4 linked regions of the Homo sapiens genome follow. The protein of the gene in region 1 purifies or fractionates together with the protein of each later gene. This does not show direct contact. Each region holds a gene or a part of one and is shown in the gene's direction. Other genes may lie near its edges.

Evidence for each region. The genes of interacting proteins can lie anywhere in the genome.
Region 2: the proteins of ZSCAN20 (region 1) and PPL purify together in Homo sapiens (affinity purification with mass spectrometry; 3 studies listed by BioGRID and IntAct, with this or other methods). This does not show direct contact.
Region 3: the proteins of ZSCAN20 (region 1) and SBSN purify together in Homo sapiens (affinity purification with mass spectrometry; 3 studies listed by BioGRID and IntAct, with this or other methods). This does not show direct contact.
Region 4: the proteins of ZSCAN20 (region 1) and SERPINB3 purify together in Homo sapiens (affinity purification with mass spectrometry; 3 studies listed by BioGRID and IntAct, with this or other methods). This does not show direct contact.

Annotation. Positions count from the first base shown.
Region 1 is NC_000001.11:33,486,145-33,489,644, forward strand, and holds part of ZSCAN20 (zinc finger and SCAN domain-containing protein 20), read left to right. Parts: intron 1-2,320; coding exon 2,321-2,507; intron 2,508-2,969; exon of another isoform or gene 2,970-2,970; coding exon 2,971-3,047; intron 3,048-3,373; coding exon 3,374-3,458; intron 3,459-3,500. UniProt on the Homo sapiens protein: May be involved in transcriptional regulation.
Region 2 is NC_000016.10:4,895,649-4,899,148, reverse strand, and holds part of PPL (periplakin), read left to right. Parts: intron 1-28; coding exon 29-136; intron 137-1,378; coding exon 1,379-1,474; intron 1,475-2,568; exon of another isoform or gene 2,569-3,432; coding exon 3,433-3,500. UniProt on the Homo sapiens protein: Component of the cornified envelope of keratinocytes. May link the cornified envelope to desmosomes and intermediate filaments. May act as a localization signal in PKB/AKT-mediated signaling.
Region 3 is NC_000019.10:35,525,512-35,529,641, reverse strand, and holds the start of SBSN (suprabasin isoform 1 precursor), read left to right. Parts: upstream 1-1,330; 5' UTR 1,331-1,360; coding exon 1,361-2,998; intron 2,999-4,130.
Region 4 is NC_000018.10:63,659,094-63,663,382, reverse strand, and holds the start of SERPINB3 (serpin B3), read left to right. Parts: upstream 1-1,489; 5' UTR 1,490-1,537; intron 1,538-2,140; 5' UTR 2,141-2,166; coding exon 2,167-2,331; intron 2,332-2,526; coding exon 2,527-2,583; intron 2,584-3,855; coding exon 3,856-3,984; intron 3,985-4,289. UniProt on the Homo sapiens protein: May act as a papain-like cysteine protease inhibitor to modulate the host immune response against tumor cells. Also functions as an inhibitor of UV-induced apoptosis via suppression of the activity of c-Jun NH(2)-terminal kinase (JNK1).

The DNA of each region.
Region 1 (3,500 bases):
GGTTCTTTTTTCCTGCCATCTGCCATAAGCATGAAGAGATTTTTCTCTGATATTCACTGTGAGGGTCTGGTTGAGCTCCTGGAGATAAAACTTACAAAAATGTGCCCCTGCTCAGTGATTAAGTGCCCTGGAGTTTTTACCTCTCAGAGTTGTCCACACTGACCTTCCAGCAGTTCATCAATTACAGTTTAGGTTTTTCTCCCCTGGAACTGGTTCCCACAGAGGCTTCTGCTCCACTAAGTTGTGATTCTCTGATTCTACCTGTTTGTCTCTCCAATTTTGGGGAGAATGGTTTGCCCTGTGACCTCACTTCTCTGACAGATCTAAGGAGAGTTGTTGATTTTTCAGTTTGTTCAGCTTTTTACTTGTTACTGTAGAGTCTAGAGGGGCAACTTGTAGACTACAGACTTCTTGGAAACTAGAAGTCTGACCTACTAATTTTTTGTCTCCTGGTTGTCACTTGAATCTACTTCTTTCTGTGTCCAAAATTACCATCCATGGAATCAGAATCTTTGCTTAGGGATGGTAATAGTTGGAGGCACTGGGGTTGAGAGTAAAGATTGTTGTTGAATTTAGTCACACAGTTCCTCTGTAGGTTATAATGATAACAAAGTGAATTTTTTTTTAACATGACCATATAAGAAGATTGATAAGCAGATGCTTTCTCCCTGTGAAGTCACACAGGACACTGGTGGATCTTCTTATTTGGAATGGCCCTTGATGCTCATGGCCCATTCCTATATGTCTTCTCAATGGTAAAAATCCTTCTCTGTGAGTGGATCTGAATTTTCAGGCCAGCCAAAAAAGTTTTGGAGCTAAGTTTGGCAAACTCAGTAATTTAATGAAGATAGTTGTTATTATTTTGGTTCAAAAAAATAAGACTCAGAGCAGTATATCTAGTCATAAGTTTTTGTATAAAAAAGAGGGAAGCTAAGAATACACATTTACATTTGCTTGTATGTAGAAAGAAACTCTAAAAGAATGCAGAAGAGCATAGTTACCTGTGATGAGGAGAGGGGAAAAGAACGGGGTCGATGGGATGAAGATGGATGGAGGTGGGGCATTTTCACTGAATATACCCATGTATGTATTTTCTGTTTTTAAACCATGTGAGTCTATTATCTATTGAAAAAAATTGAAATATGTTTTTAAAAGTTAGGTGTTTCTATAAAGTATTGAGATTGTTATATTTTGGAGGTTTTATAGCCTGGGTAACACCTTGACCTCTCTACCTGTGAACTTGGAACCAGCTGAGAAATAGAGATAAGAAATTAGCTGTGTGATTGATGAAGTTGATTGGGTAATGTTATTTTAGTTGATTACTCCCTTTTATTTTAAATATCTATATCTCTGAGTACCTTTTTTTTTTTTGCCTGAAATCCAACATTGAAATGAAAATTGCCACTTCCTTTTTCCTTTTGAGTTAGAGTGCCTTGTCTTTTGCATGTCCTTCTATTGTAAGATTAACAACACGTACTTTTATCTCATTTTAAAATTCCATCTAATTTCTTTTTTTGAGACAAGTTCTCACTCCATTGTCCAGGCTGGAGTGCAGTGGCATGATCATAGGTCACTGGTACTTCAAACTTCTGGGCTCAAGTGATCCTTCTGCCTCAGCCTCTTGAGTAGCTGGGGGTACAGGCATGTGCCACCATGCCTGGTTAATTTTATTTATTTATTTATTTATTATAGAGGTGAGGGTCTGCTATGTTGCCCAGGCTGGTCTTGAACCCTTGGCATCAAGTGATTCCCTTGCCTCAGCCTCCCAAAATGCTAGAATTACAGGCATGAGCCACTGCACCCAGCCTCCATCTGTAATTCTTTGTCCTTTTTAAAAATTTTATTTTAAAAATATCTTTCTCTTTCAGCAGAGATATTTAGAGCAATTGCATTTGGGGTTATAATTTTATATTTTTTTCCTGTTTTTATGCCTCCCTTTGCCTTTTAATATACAACTTGATAACTTTTATCTTTTTTTGATCATTTAAAAAGTAAGCAACCTATTTTTGATGCTTATGGGTTATTTTTTAATGTTACACAAATTTTACATAATTTATCTCTTTATGAATCAAAAATGTTTTGAACAGTGGGACTCTCATTGAAACACTTGGATCGCCACCCTGTGTTCAACAGATGGTACTCATTTGGTGGTATAAATGCTGGTCTACCTACCAAACTCACTCTGATGGCTTTCTCATCCTATTTCAAGCCATTTTGGATCTTAAAAGAGCCTGTTAGCCTCTGGACTGCAGTTGTACTCAAAATACCAAAGTGGGTCTTACTGAATTGTTGATTGGGAATTTTGACTATTTGTGTGTAGGGACTGGAATTGCATACAGAAGAGACCAGGCCCTTAAAGACAGGGGAAGAAGCTCAGAGCTTCCAGCTGCAGCCAGTGGATCCCTGGCCTGAGGGACAGTCCCAGAAGAAGGGGGTGAAGAATACATGCCCTGACCTTCCCAATCACCTAAATGCCGAGGTGGCACCACAGCCTTTGAAAGAGAGTGGTGAGTACATCTGAGAACATTAGGGAATGAGGCCTTCTGCAGGGGAGAGGGATGGGAGGTGAGGAAGGGTGCATGGGGAAGAAGGATGTGCAGAATTCAAAGCAAGGGATAGGCTGCAGTGTGGTGGGCACACTTACTGAGAAGTAAGCAAGCCTCGTAAAGAGGCTGTGCCTATCGATGATGTCATCATGCCCTGCTGTAGCTGGAGTCCTGCAGCAGGTGCAGGCTGGGACAGGGGTGGGTGGTGATCACAGGAGGTCAGGGCTGGCATCTCCCACATGGCACACCACTCACAGCAGCTTAGGAGCTACACACTCTAGAAGGGAAGTAAAGGGGAAGTCTGCACTGGCCATAGGGATAGCCCTAGCTTGATCCAAGTGTTACTTTTGGAAAGCCAATCTCAAAGGGAGGTGATTTTTTGGGAACCAGAGCTTGGGTTTCAGTGACTTTTTCTTTTCCTCAGCTGTCCTCACTCCCCGAGTCCCTACTCTCCCAAAGATGGGGAGCGTTGGAGATTGGGAGGTGACAGCTGAGTCCCAGGTAAGCTGTTACTCGTTCTTCCTTTCCTGTCATTGCTGCTCCTGTGCTCTTGCCCCCACAGTGTTCCTCCTCTCTCTCCATGACCTCTGCTCAGCAAAAGGGCATGAGGCCCAGGGTGTTAGCCTTTGCCCTTCACCCCCAGCCTGCTGGGCCCCAAACATCCCCAAACACATGTATGTACCAAATGGCCATCCTGCTCCTTATGATGCCAGCTTCACACATGGTATCCCTCTGTTCCCATCATCTTTCCTGGGAGCCTGCTAGGGTTCCTAGGCTGTTGTCAAAGGTCAGTGATGTTTGGGGTCCTTGTCTTGTGCATCTCGCAGGAAGCCCTGGGCCCTGGCAAACATGCTGAGAAGGAGCTCTGTAAAGACCCCCCAGGAGACGACTGTGGGAACAGCGTGTGCCTGGGTAAGGAGACGTACCCTCTGAAGGTGATGTTGTCATGCTTCT
Region 2 (3,500 bases), on another chromosome or scaffold:
GAGGCCCCTCCACTGCCCCCCACTGCAGAATTTCATCAACCGGAACCTGGAGGCCAAAGAGGAGAGAATCAACAAACTGCACAGCGAGGGCGACCAGCTGCTGGCGGCCGAGCACCCCGGGAGGAACTCCATTGAGGTTCATGCACCCCGAGACCAGACACCTCCCCCAGGGTGGCTTCTGGTTGGCCGCTGCCTGTGGGCCGCCTGGAGCTCGGGCAGACCCCGGAGCTGGGGGTCCTGCAAGCTGCATCTTGTGTCTGTCTGTCTCTTTCTTGCTGTGTCTGACTCTGCCTCCTCCATTTATCCTGATCCGTTGACACTTCTGCCCTCAGCCCCTGGACTTCTGAAGCCCCTGTGGGGTCTGTATTAGTTTCCTAGAGTTGCTGCAACAAGTTAAAACAAACTTAGTGGCTTTAAACAACAGAAATTCATTCTCTCAGAGGTCTGTGGGCTGTAAGTCTGAAATCAAGGTGTCTTAGGGCCTCATTCCCTCTGGAAGCTCCAGGACATGTGCCTTCCTTGCTCTTCCGGCTTCTGGGGGTTGCCAACAGCCCTTGGCTTGTGGCTGCATCATTCCAGTCCCTTCCTCCGTCTTCACATGGCCTTCTCTCCCCATGTCTCTCTGTATCCTCTCTTCTTATAAGGATATCAGTCAGTGGATTTAGGGCTCACCCTAATTTCAGGATCCTTAACTAATGACATCTGCAAAGATCTTATTCCCAAATAAGGTCGCATTCTTCCCAACCCCCACAATGCCACCAACCCCGCCTGAGATGGAGTTTCGCTGTTGTTGCCCAGGCTGGAGTGCGATGGTGTAATCTTGGCTCACTGCAACCTCCACCTCCCGGGTTCAAGCAATTCTCCTGCCTCAGCCTCCCAAGTAGCTGGGACTACAGGCGCACACCATCATGCCCAGCTAATTTTTGTATTTTTAGTAGAGACAGGGTCTCATCATGTGGGCCAGGCTAGTCTCAAACTCCTGACCTCAGGTGATCCACCCGCCTCGGCCTCCCAAAGTGCTGCGATTACAGGTGTGAGCCACCATGCCTGGCCAGGGTCATGGATTTGGTGGGACACTGTTCGGTCCATGACAGTGCCTTTGTACAGATTTGCCGAAGGCACCACAGCCCCCACTTGCCCTTTGTGCACTGCACAGCCTGGGCATCCGTATGTGGCATCCCTGTTTGGCTCCTTGACGTGACCCCTCTCTCCTCCTCCCACTCCTGAGCAGAAGCTGGCTACCCCTGTGGTAGCCACACCCAGACAGATGCCAGATGCCTCCCTCCCCCGCCATGCCCCAGCCCAATATCCCAGCAGTCCCTCCCTTGGTGTCTGCAGTACCTGCCCAGTGGTGACCGGCCCCTTCTCTTCCTGGCAGGCGCACATGGAGGCTGTGCACGCAGACTGGAAGGAGTACCTGAACCTGCTCATCTGCGAGGAGAGCCACCTCAAGTACATGGAGGACTACCACCAGGTACTTACCTTTCCTGGGAGTCCCCCCAGCACCGGGGGTGCTACTCTCTGAGAGCGCTCAGTGCCTACCTGGCTCATGTGTGGCCTCGTGCTCCTTGGTCCAGGAGCCTTGCGGGGCAGCCATCCCAGGCCCCCAGCACCCATGCTTCTGATGGCGTGTGCAGACATGTCCCAAGCTTGCCGGCCCCTGTCCAACTTCCCTGGGGACCAGGGCCAGAGTCTGATTCCCCAGGTCACATGGGGCCCAGGGTGAGTGTGTAGGGTTTTAATTTTGGTAAAATCTATAATATACATGCAGATACATAAAACAAAATTTGCCTTTTTTTTTTTTTTTTTTTTTTTTGAGAGAGTCTTGCCCTGTCACCCAGGCTGGAGTGCAGTCGTGCCATCTCGGCTCACTACAACCTCCACCTCCTGGGTTCAAGTGATTCTCCTGCCTCAGCCTCCTGAACAGCTGGGATTACAAGTGCCCACCACCACACCCAGCTAATTTTTGTATTTTCAGTAAAGATGGGGTTTCGCCATGTTGGTCAGGCTGGTCTCGAACTCCTGACCTCAGGTGATCCTCCCGCCTCGGCCTCCTAAAGTGTTGGGATTACAGGTGTGAGCCACCACACCCGGCCAGTTTGCATTTTTAAGTGTACAATTCAGTGGCATTCATTGCATTCGCAATGTTATGCAACCATCACCACCATCTACTTGCAAAACTTTCCATCACCCCAAACAGAAACCCTATACCCTGGCTGGGCACGGTAGCTCATGTCTGTAATTCCAGCACTCTGGGAAGCCGAGGCGACTGGATCACCTGAGGTCAGGAGTTCAAGACCAGCCTGGCCAACATGATGAAACCCCATCTCTACTAAAATACAAAAGTTAGCCAGGTGTGGTGGCCCATATCTGTAGTCCCAGATGGGAGGCTGAGGCAGGAGAACTGCTTGAACCCAGGAGGCAGAGGTTGCAGTGAGCTGAGATCGCGCCATTGCACTCCAGCCTGGGCGACAGAGTGAGTCTCCGCCTCAAAAAAAAAAAAAAAAAACAACCCCGTACTCATTAGGCAGTAAGTTTTCCATTCCCACTCCCCCAGCCCCAGGTCACCTTTGGTCTTCTTGCTGTCTCTATGGACTTGCCTGTTCCAGAAGTGTCACACCTAGAACGAATATGAAGAATCAGTGGGATCATGCAATCTCTGCCCTTTTGTGTCTGGCTTCTCTCACTGAGCATCATGTTTTCCGGGTTCATCCGTGTTGTAGCATTTTCAGTGCTTCACCCCTTTTTATGGCTGAATCATATCCTATTGTATGGCTAGACCACTGTGTTTATCCACTCATCTGTGGCTGGACACTTGTCTGTTTCCAGAGGAATGAGAGTTCTTAAGAAGCTGCGGGTAATTCTTAGGATTGAGGTGTCTGGGGAAAGCTGGATGTGGGCGACGCCGTGTCACTCCTCATTCCCTGTCTGAGCCGCACAGTGGGGGCTTCAGGTCCTGTTTATGGCTGCAGCCCAGGTGCTCAGCCCAGGGGATAGCTGACAGTGAACCAAGAGTTGATAGACTGAAGAATGGGCAAGAGAATTTTCGAGAACAAAAAGGGGAGGCTATTATCAAAACCTAGAAAGAAGCTATAGTATTAAGTCTGGATGTTCCTAGTACAGAGAGAGGAACTGAATCAAAGACACCTCAAGACTTACTGATACATCCAAGAAAACATGTCACAGAGGTGGCATCTCATGGATGGGTGGGAAGGGACCTGGCTTTTCCCAGTGAGGCCCCTAAGGAGCCAGCTCAGGGAGGGTGGGGCTGTCTCCACGCAGAGGAGCCTCAGGCTCAGCACAGGGTCCCATGCTGGACTCCAGGTGAACCGGAGGCCCAGCCCCGCCTGAGGGATGAGCTTGAAGCCTCCGACAGAAGCCCAGGTGCTTCTAGTGGTTTCCTGGCTGTAACAGAGCCACCTTCTCCCCTAGTTTCACGAAGACGTGAAGGACGCTCAGGAGCTGCTGCGCAAGGTGGACTCGGACCTGAACCAGAAGTA
Region 3 (4,130 bases), on another chromosome or scaffold:
CCTTCCTTCCGATGCCCTTTTCATGCCTGAGGCCAGACTCTCAGCTGTTTCCCCTCCAACCCGAGCCAATATGTCAACACTTGGGGCTTCAGGTTGGGGCTTAGGAGGCCCCATGTCGGGAGGGCAGGAAGGATGAGGGCCTGGCCCCAGCCCAGGTTCTGGCTCACAGGCTCCTGCTGCCCTGGGTCTTCGGCCCCTCCCCGTGGCTGCCTCAACCGGCTTTTCAGGAGACACTGCGTCCTGTTCCAGCTCGTGGCAATCAGCCCCCTGCCCTTGCCCAAGGGCTGGGAGGCAGGAGGTCTGGGTTCTGCGACAGGAATGGGATCCTGCCTCCAAAATCTGCGGCACTCCACAAGGGACTCTATGCTGCCCTGGCGACCCAGGCGCCCTTCCCTCCAGCACCCTGTGAGACCCAGACTCGGGCTCGGAGTCTCTTTCCTTGGCCTGTTCGAATCCATCCATTTGTCCAGTCAATAAATATTTACTGAACCCCAGGCAGTGTTCAAGAAGCTAGGAATACAGCAGTGATCAACACGACCAATTTACATTGCTAGTAGGTGAGACAGGCAATAAAAAATAAAGGTAATTTCAGATTTTTTTTTTCTGTGAAAACAAAAGGGTGATACTACAGAGTATAATTAATGCCATGTTATGGTCAGGAGAGGTTTTCTTGCGAAGTTGGCATTTAAGTCAAGTACGGATGAGGAGGAGCCAGCCACGTGAAGATCTGGGTTCTGCATTCCAGGCAGAGAGAGGAGCATGTGCAAAGGCCCTGCAGCAGGAATGAGCTTGGTGTGTTTGTGGAACAGGGAGAAGGCCTGTGTGGCTGGAATGGAATGAGTGAGGGCAGGGGCTGGCCCACAAGAACGAGGTCTGATGACTCCTTCATCCCACCTAGTGTTCTCCCCTCTCCAGACGGTGCCTCCCATCATTCTAGCCCCTCACTGCCTGGGGAGCTGGAGGCTTAGATGCCTGAGAGGAGTGAGGTGTTGAAGAATTGCCTGCATCCCAGGGATGGAGCATGGTGGAAGGTGGGTTTGCGAGAGAGGAGGCCTGGACAGTGGGTGAGGAATGAAAGAGGAGGTGGTTGGAAGGGCAGACACCCATCTCTGGGGTGGAGGGCAAGGAGCAAAGATGCCAGAGTTCTTCTCCATCCATGACTCACCCTCTCTTCCTCCTCCTCTCCATTGCTCAACTCCAAATCTCCCTGGGAAACACCTCCTTGACTGAAGACCAACTCAGTGCCTCACAGGGGTAATTGAGTCATGAGGGGTGGAGAAGAGGGCGAGAGGGAGAGAGGATAAATAGCAGCGTGGCTTCCCTGGCTCCTCTCTGCATCCTTCCCGACCTTCCCAGCAATATGCATCTTGCACGTCTGGTCGGCTCCTGCTCCCTCCTTCTGCTACTGGGGGCCCTGTCTGGATGGGCGGCCAGCGATGACCCCATTGAGAAGGTCATTGAAGGGATCAACCGAGGGCTGAGCAATGCAGAGAGAGAGGTGGGCAAGGCCCTGGATGGCATCAACAGTGGAATCACGCATGCCGGAAGGGAAGTGGAGAAGGTTTTCAACGGACTTAGCAACATGGGGAGCCACACCGGCAAGGAGTTGGACAAAGGCGTCCAGGGGCTCAACCACGGCATGGACAAGGTTGCCCATGAGATCAACCATGGTATTGGACAAGCAGGAAAGGAAGCAGAGAAGCTTGGCCATGGGGTCAACAACGCTGCTGGACAGGTTGGGAAGGAGGCAGACAAACTGATCCATCATGGGGTCCATCACGGGGCCAACCAGGCGGGAAGTGAGGCAGGGAAGTTTGGCCAGGGAGTCGACAATGCTGCAGGGCAGGCTGGAAATGAGGCTGGGAGGTTTGGCCAGGGAGTCCACCATGCTGCAGGGCAGGCCGGAAATGAGGCTGGGAGGTTTGGCCAGGGAGTCCACCATGCTGCAGGGCAGGCCGGAAATGAGGCTGGGAGATTTGGCCAGGGGGCCCACCATGGTCTCAGTGAGGGCTGGAAGGAGACAGAGAAGTTTGGCCAGGGGATCCACCATGCTGCCGGTCAGGTTGGGAAGGAGGCAGAGAAGTTTGGCCAGGGGGCCCACCATGCTGCGGGGCAGGCCGGAAATGAGGCAGGGAGATTTGGCCAGGGGGTCCACCATGGTCTCAGTGAGGGCTGGAAGGAGACAGAGAAGTTTGGCCAGGGGGTCCACCATACTGCTGGTCAGGTTGGGAAGGAGGCAGAGAAGTTTGGCCAGGGGGCCCACCATGCTGCGGGGCAGGCCGGAAATGAGGCAGGGAGATTTGGCCAGGGGGCCCACCATGCTGCGGGGCAGGCCGGAAATGAGGCTGGGAGGTTTGGCCAGGGGGTCCACCATGGTCTCAGTGAGGGCTGGAAGGAGACAGAGAAGTTTGGCCAGGGGGTCCACCATGCTGCCAGTCAGTTTGGGAAGGAAACAGAGAAGCTCGGCCATGGGGTCCACCATGGGGTTAATGAGGCCTGGAAGGAAGCAGAGAAGTTTGGCCAGGGTGTCCACCATGCTGCCTCGCAGGTGGGGAAGGAGGAAGACAGAGTGGTCCAAGGCCTCCATCATGGCGTTAGTCAGGCTGGAAGGGAGGCGGGGCAGTTTGGCCACGACATTCACCACACAGCAGGGCAGGCTGGGAAAGAGGGAGACATAGCAGTTCATGGTGTCCAACCTGGGGTCCACGAGGCCGGGAAGGAGGCAGGGCAGTTTGGCCAGGGAGTTCACCATACCCTTGAACAGGCCGGGAAGGAAGCAGACAAAGCGGTCCAAGGGTTCCACACTGGGGTCCACCAGGCTGGGAAGGAAGCAGAGAAACTTGGCCAAGGGGTCAACCATGCTGCTGACCAGGCTGGAAAGGAAGTGGAGAAGCTTGGCCAAGGTGCCCACCATGCTGCTGGCCAGGCCGGGAAGGAGCTGCAGAATGCTCATAATGGGGTCAACCAAGCCAGCAAGGAGGCCAACCAGCTGCTGAATGTAGGTGAACAGGGATGGGGAGATGGGGGACAGGGGGGTTGGGGGAGGGAAAGGTTAAACCCCTGGGACATTTGGCGGGGCGGGGGGGTCCGCGTAGCCTTTGTTTGGTGAAAGAAGCTTGGGCAGCTATATCACTGGGTTCCTCCCCCTTCCCCATCTCCCTTACAAAGGAGCTGGTGGCAGCTGGTCAGATGGGGTGAGCCACCTTATCTGCAAAGCACGTATCAGACAGGGTGGCGGGCACCCTGTCCCACCTTCAGGGAGCTGCCCTCCTGGTTAAGGGGGCCTCAAGTGGGGCCCATGAAGCCCTTCCTGGGGAATGGGAAACAGTTCCTGAGATCAAGATCTAGTATAGTGCAAAGGGACTGAGTGTTGACAAAACCTGGTTAGGAGAGTGAGCATGAGGAATAGCTTTCGGAGATGAGCCTTGGCCTGTGTAATCTTTGTAACTACCCTCTGATGTGGTCAAGATGAGGCTGCTGACGCCCTGATTCTCAGATAAGGAAACAAAGGCTCAGAGAGGTTAGGGGACGTGCCAAAGTCCTGTGGCTAGTGCCCAGCTTTGGCAGAGGGCAGGCCAGGGTTCTCTTCCCCTGCACTGCCCAGCCAGGAGAGGTTTTCTGGAAGGTTTCTCTTACCCATTTATGTAGGGGGAACAGAGGCCAGGTTCAGTGGCTCATGCCTGTTAACCCCAGCACTTTGGGAGGCCGAGGCAGGTGGATCACTTGAGCTCAGGAGTTCAAGAGCAGCCTGGCCAACATGGTGAAACCCTATCTCTACTAAAAATACAAAAATTAGCCAGGTGTGGTGGCTGGCGCCTCTAATCCCAACTACTCAGAAGGCTGAGGCAGGAGAATCCCTTGAACCCGAGAAGCGGAGTTTGCAGTGAGCTGAGATTGCACCATTGCACTCCAGCCTGGGCAACAGAGTGAGACTCTGTCTCAAAAAAAATAATAATAAAATAAAATATGTAGAGGGAACAGAGACTGGAGGCAGGCAAATAGCACCACTCACAACAGAACAGGCACCAAGAAGGGAGCGTGGGGAGCAGGAGAGGGTGGACTCCTGTGCGCCCTCACTCTCCAGGCTCCATGAGGGGTCCTGGATCTGCAAGATGTGACTGGCTCAGACG
Region 4 (4,289 bases), on another chromosome or scaffold:
TAGTGAAATTGTTGTGGAACGAGATCATGATGGTGATAGCACAACTTTGTGAATATAATAAAATCATTGAATTGTACAGTTGAATTTGTGGCATATAAATTATATGTTAAAAAAGGGGGTCCACAAAACAAACAGCCCCCCACTCTGGTTGTCAGGGAGATATTGGATTAAATGGCCTTGGACAACAACCCTCTCCCTGGCCACAGACATTCTTCAGATTACAAGATATTCCAGAGGAAACACTGGAATGAGTCTGAAGCCAGGTGCTAAATGGAAGGACCACCAAGAAACGTTGTGATCCTGACAGGTCAAGCAACTTCTTTTTCTGCTTAATTTTTAAATGAAAAATTAGAAAGCTGACATTCAAAATGGCCCGTCTGTTTCAATTGCTCTTCTCAGTGTCAGCCTGTTAACTCAATGTGTTAGTCTGTTTTCATGCTGCTGATAAAGACATACCTGAGATTAGGAAGTAAAAGAGGTTTAATTGGACTTAGAGTTCCACGTGATTGGGGAGGCCTCAGAATCACGGTAGGAGGCAAAAGTTATTCTTACATGGTGGCTGCAAGAGAAAATGAGGAAGAAGCAAAAGAAGAAACCCCTAATAAACCCATTGGATCTCCTGAGACTTATTAACTATCATGAGAATAGCACAAGAAAGACCGGCCCCCATGATTCAATTACCTCTACCTGGGTCCCTCCAACAACATGTGGAAATTCTGGTAGATACAATTCAAGTTGAGATTTGGGTGGGAACACAGCCAAACCATATCACTCAGCAAGGCAGATAACTTTCTCACTGAGCCTATGCAACAGAAAACCATCTGGGATGGTTGTAAGGGGCACAGGAAGTGACTGGTAGGATCACTGCCAAAGCTGAGCATTCAGGAGAAGGCAATAGAATCCTATTCTCCATAGTATGCTATAAGATACTGAAGTACACTTCTTCACTATCTCTTTGGACTTAGAATTAGCACTATATTCCTTGTTATACAGAAAAATTACTAAGGAAATTCATAGGATGACAAAAACTTTCAGAACTGAAAAACAGGAAATGTAAGCTTTTTAGTTCTTTGGTATTCGAAGTATGCCTAAAAGACAATGCAAAATCCAAGAAAAGAATGGTGGGGTTTTTGTTTGTTTGTTTTTGTTTTTGTTTTACAGCTGGAGTAGAATACAAAGGGATGGAGTTGAAACAAATGAGAGGAAATTGGAATTCTAAACTTATTCTCATTGGCATTAGAAAGGCACCTACATGTATTTCACATGAGCCGGTGACTGCTGACTTGCATTCTTATTTTTTCCCTATAGATTAAAAAGGAGGTACAATGGTAGAACTGTAATCCTGTCCTTTGTCATAAATTTTCGTATTCATAAAGGTGAGTGTTAGCCCGCTTGTGAAATCTGAAGTTGAGTAACTTCAAATACTAACCACAGAGGGAGAGGCAGCAAGAGGAGAGGCATAAATTCAGGATCTCACCCTTCATTCCACAGACACACATAGCCTCTCTGCCCACCTCTGCTTCCTCTAGGAACACAGGTAAGAGCTTCAAGCCTCTCCAGCTTAATAACATGAATTATTTTTGAGAATAATAATGATACTGTGTTCTATATCATGCATCTCCTGCATTCTGTCTGATTATATTTTACTTATTCTGCCAGAGCAAAATTAAAATACCTATTTCATCTGATTTGTCCTTTATCTAAATTGCTTAGTTCCAAGTAAACCAAGGCACTTTTAGGAACACAGAGGGAGAGTGCCTTGCAGCCAGAGAGTCTTGAAGGAGATGTCAGGGACGCATCTTAACAGCTGGTTGGATGTGATCCACAGAGGTCTCCTGTTAGCATTCATTGTAAAGCCTTCCTACCTAGCCCTAGTGTAGCCAGCAATGAAGGAAAGAGGGTCTATTACTTATTTACAGTAGTCTTTAAAAACACTAATTTTGTGAGGCTTCTAATTAAGACATTAATATATTTAATATATGCACATTGTAGAAAGATTGAAACGTTAAAAATAAGATGAGGAAAACTTTAAATGTCAAAATCTCACAACACAGATATATAATTTCTTTAAGAAAATTGTACTACAAAATACCATTCCATTTATTAAAGTCATTCTGACAGGAATCTGATGCTTTTCCAGGAGTTCCAGATCACATCGAGTTCACCATGAATTCACTCAGTGAAGCCAACACCAAGTTCATGTTCGACCTGTTCCAACAGTTCAGAAAATCAAAAGAGAACAACATCTTCTATTCCCCTATCAGCATCACATCAGCATTAGGGATGGTCCTCTTAGGAGCCAAAGACAACACTGCACAACAGATTAAGAAGGTAGCTATCAGCATCATTATGTTGTCCTGTTGCAGTTTTTCTCTGGTTCCGTCGGCTAGCACGCAGATGGTAATAGATGTGGTGGTCTGATGGGTAGCACAGGGGGCTGAGCAGGAATTCCCGTAACTGTGAGACCACTGACTTAAACAGATCTTTTGAGTAAAGTTTTCTTGTCCCGCTTCATGTCTCTTCCAGGTTCTTCACTTTGATCAAGTCACAGAGAACACCACAGGAAAAGCTGCAACATATCATGTGAGTCACAGAGCACTATGGTTCAGCTTTAGATCCCCGAACAGGTCATAGTTTGAACCTGGAACTTCACAGAAACTAAGAAAAGGCCATTTTTAGGGAAAATCTTGGACACAAAGATTGAGACATACAGAGTGGGTTGGCATTTCATGGCACATAATTATTATTCCTCCTTTCTTCGTTACTGAAAGACAGTCAGCACTGTACCTCAGAGCATAGGTCTGGATCAGGATAGGCTAGGTTCAGACTCCAGCTTTGCTCTTCACAAATGGTGAACATGAGCAGGACACAACTGCTCAGAGTCCCAGTGACCTCATCCCAGAAAACTAAGGGTAATAAGAAATCTGACTCAATACATGCAAATACATGCAAATGTTTACAACATTGCCTTGCCCATAAAATGTCATAATAAATGTTATTATTATTATAAAATAGCTATAATTATACTAATCACAATAATGTTGCAAAATATTTAATTTTCATTGAGTCATTAATGAGATAAAGAGGAATAAGCACAAGTCCAACTATATTTTGGAAAATGATTGCTATGGAATATATTGGTTTAGAGCCTTAATAGTGCAAAATGCTTTGCTGGAAAGTAGAAGTTTCTAGATTTAAACAGGCTTAGGTTCAAAACGTGGCACTTCTAATTTATGTCTCTATGAAGAGGTTTACTTTCCATTCTCTGAGCTTTCTTGTTTTCACCTGAATTGAACTAAAGACTTAAAGTTACCCATGTAAAGTCCTTAGCCATGTACCTGGCACACACTCTTCTTACGTGCAGAGAATGACCATCATGAGGAAACAGTCACAGATCAGTCAATGTGTCCTACAAGATAACAGCACCAACAGGTATAACAGGGCTTCCTGGCATAATCTATTTAAAATATCCAACCTTCAACATACTCATATCCTTGATGACTGTTAGAAGTGAAATATGGTCCTTGCCTTTAAGGAGCTGAGAGTTTAACTGGGAAGCTAAACCTAACCCTTTAAACCAACAAGGACAAAATCCAGTGGTAGACAGTGCTGCATCTATAGTTCAGAAGAGAAAAGATTGCAGTACATTAGAGCAAGAAGAATTTCCTGGAAGAAGTGAAACATAAGGTGGATTTTGAAGGGTATTTGAGGTGAAATACACCAAGTATCAGGGAATAAGCTCAAAGGTCCTCATTGAGACTACCAGCCATTAGGGACTGATCTAACAGACTTAGCATGGGTTTAGTATTTACATTGATACAGCAATTGAATGATCTCCTTTTTTGATGTTTGAAGGTTGATAGGTCAGGAAATGTTCATCACCAGTTTCAAAAGCTTCTGACTGAATTCAACAAATCCACTGATGCATATGAGCTGAAGATCGCCAACAAGCTCTTCGGAGAAAAAACGTATCTATTTTTACAGGTAATTTCACCTGGCCTACCCACATTTCATTTGCATCCTGATGTCTGTGTCTCTGAGTGGCCAAATGGAAGAAAGCAAGGCAGATGAGCCTGACCGATCCAGGTGGAGAGCATTTACTCAGAGTGCAATAGCTCCGTTTCCACAACTCTCCCCCACTGGAGTGTCCCAGACCCTAACAATACATCACTGAAGTGTGGATTTAGGGATAATCTTGTAATAAAAGAGGAGGTTGGGTAATAGAGTGAGTAAGAGTAATAAGTAATAAGATACCATCGATAAACTGGCACTGACTCAGTCACATACGA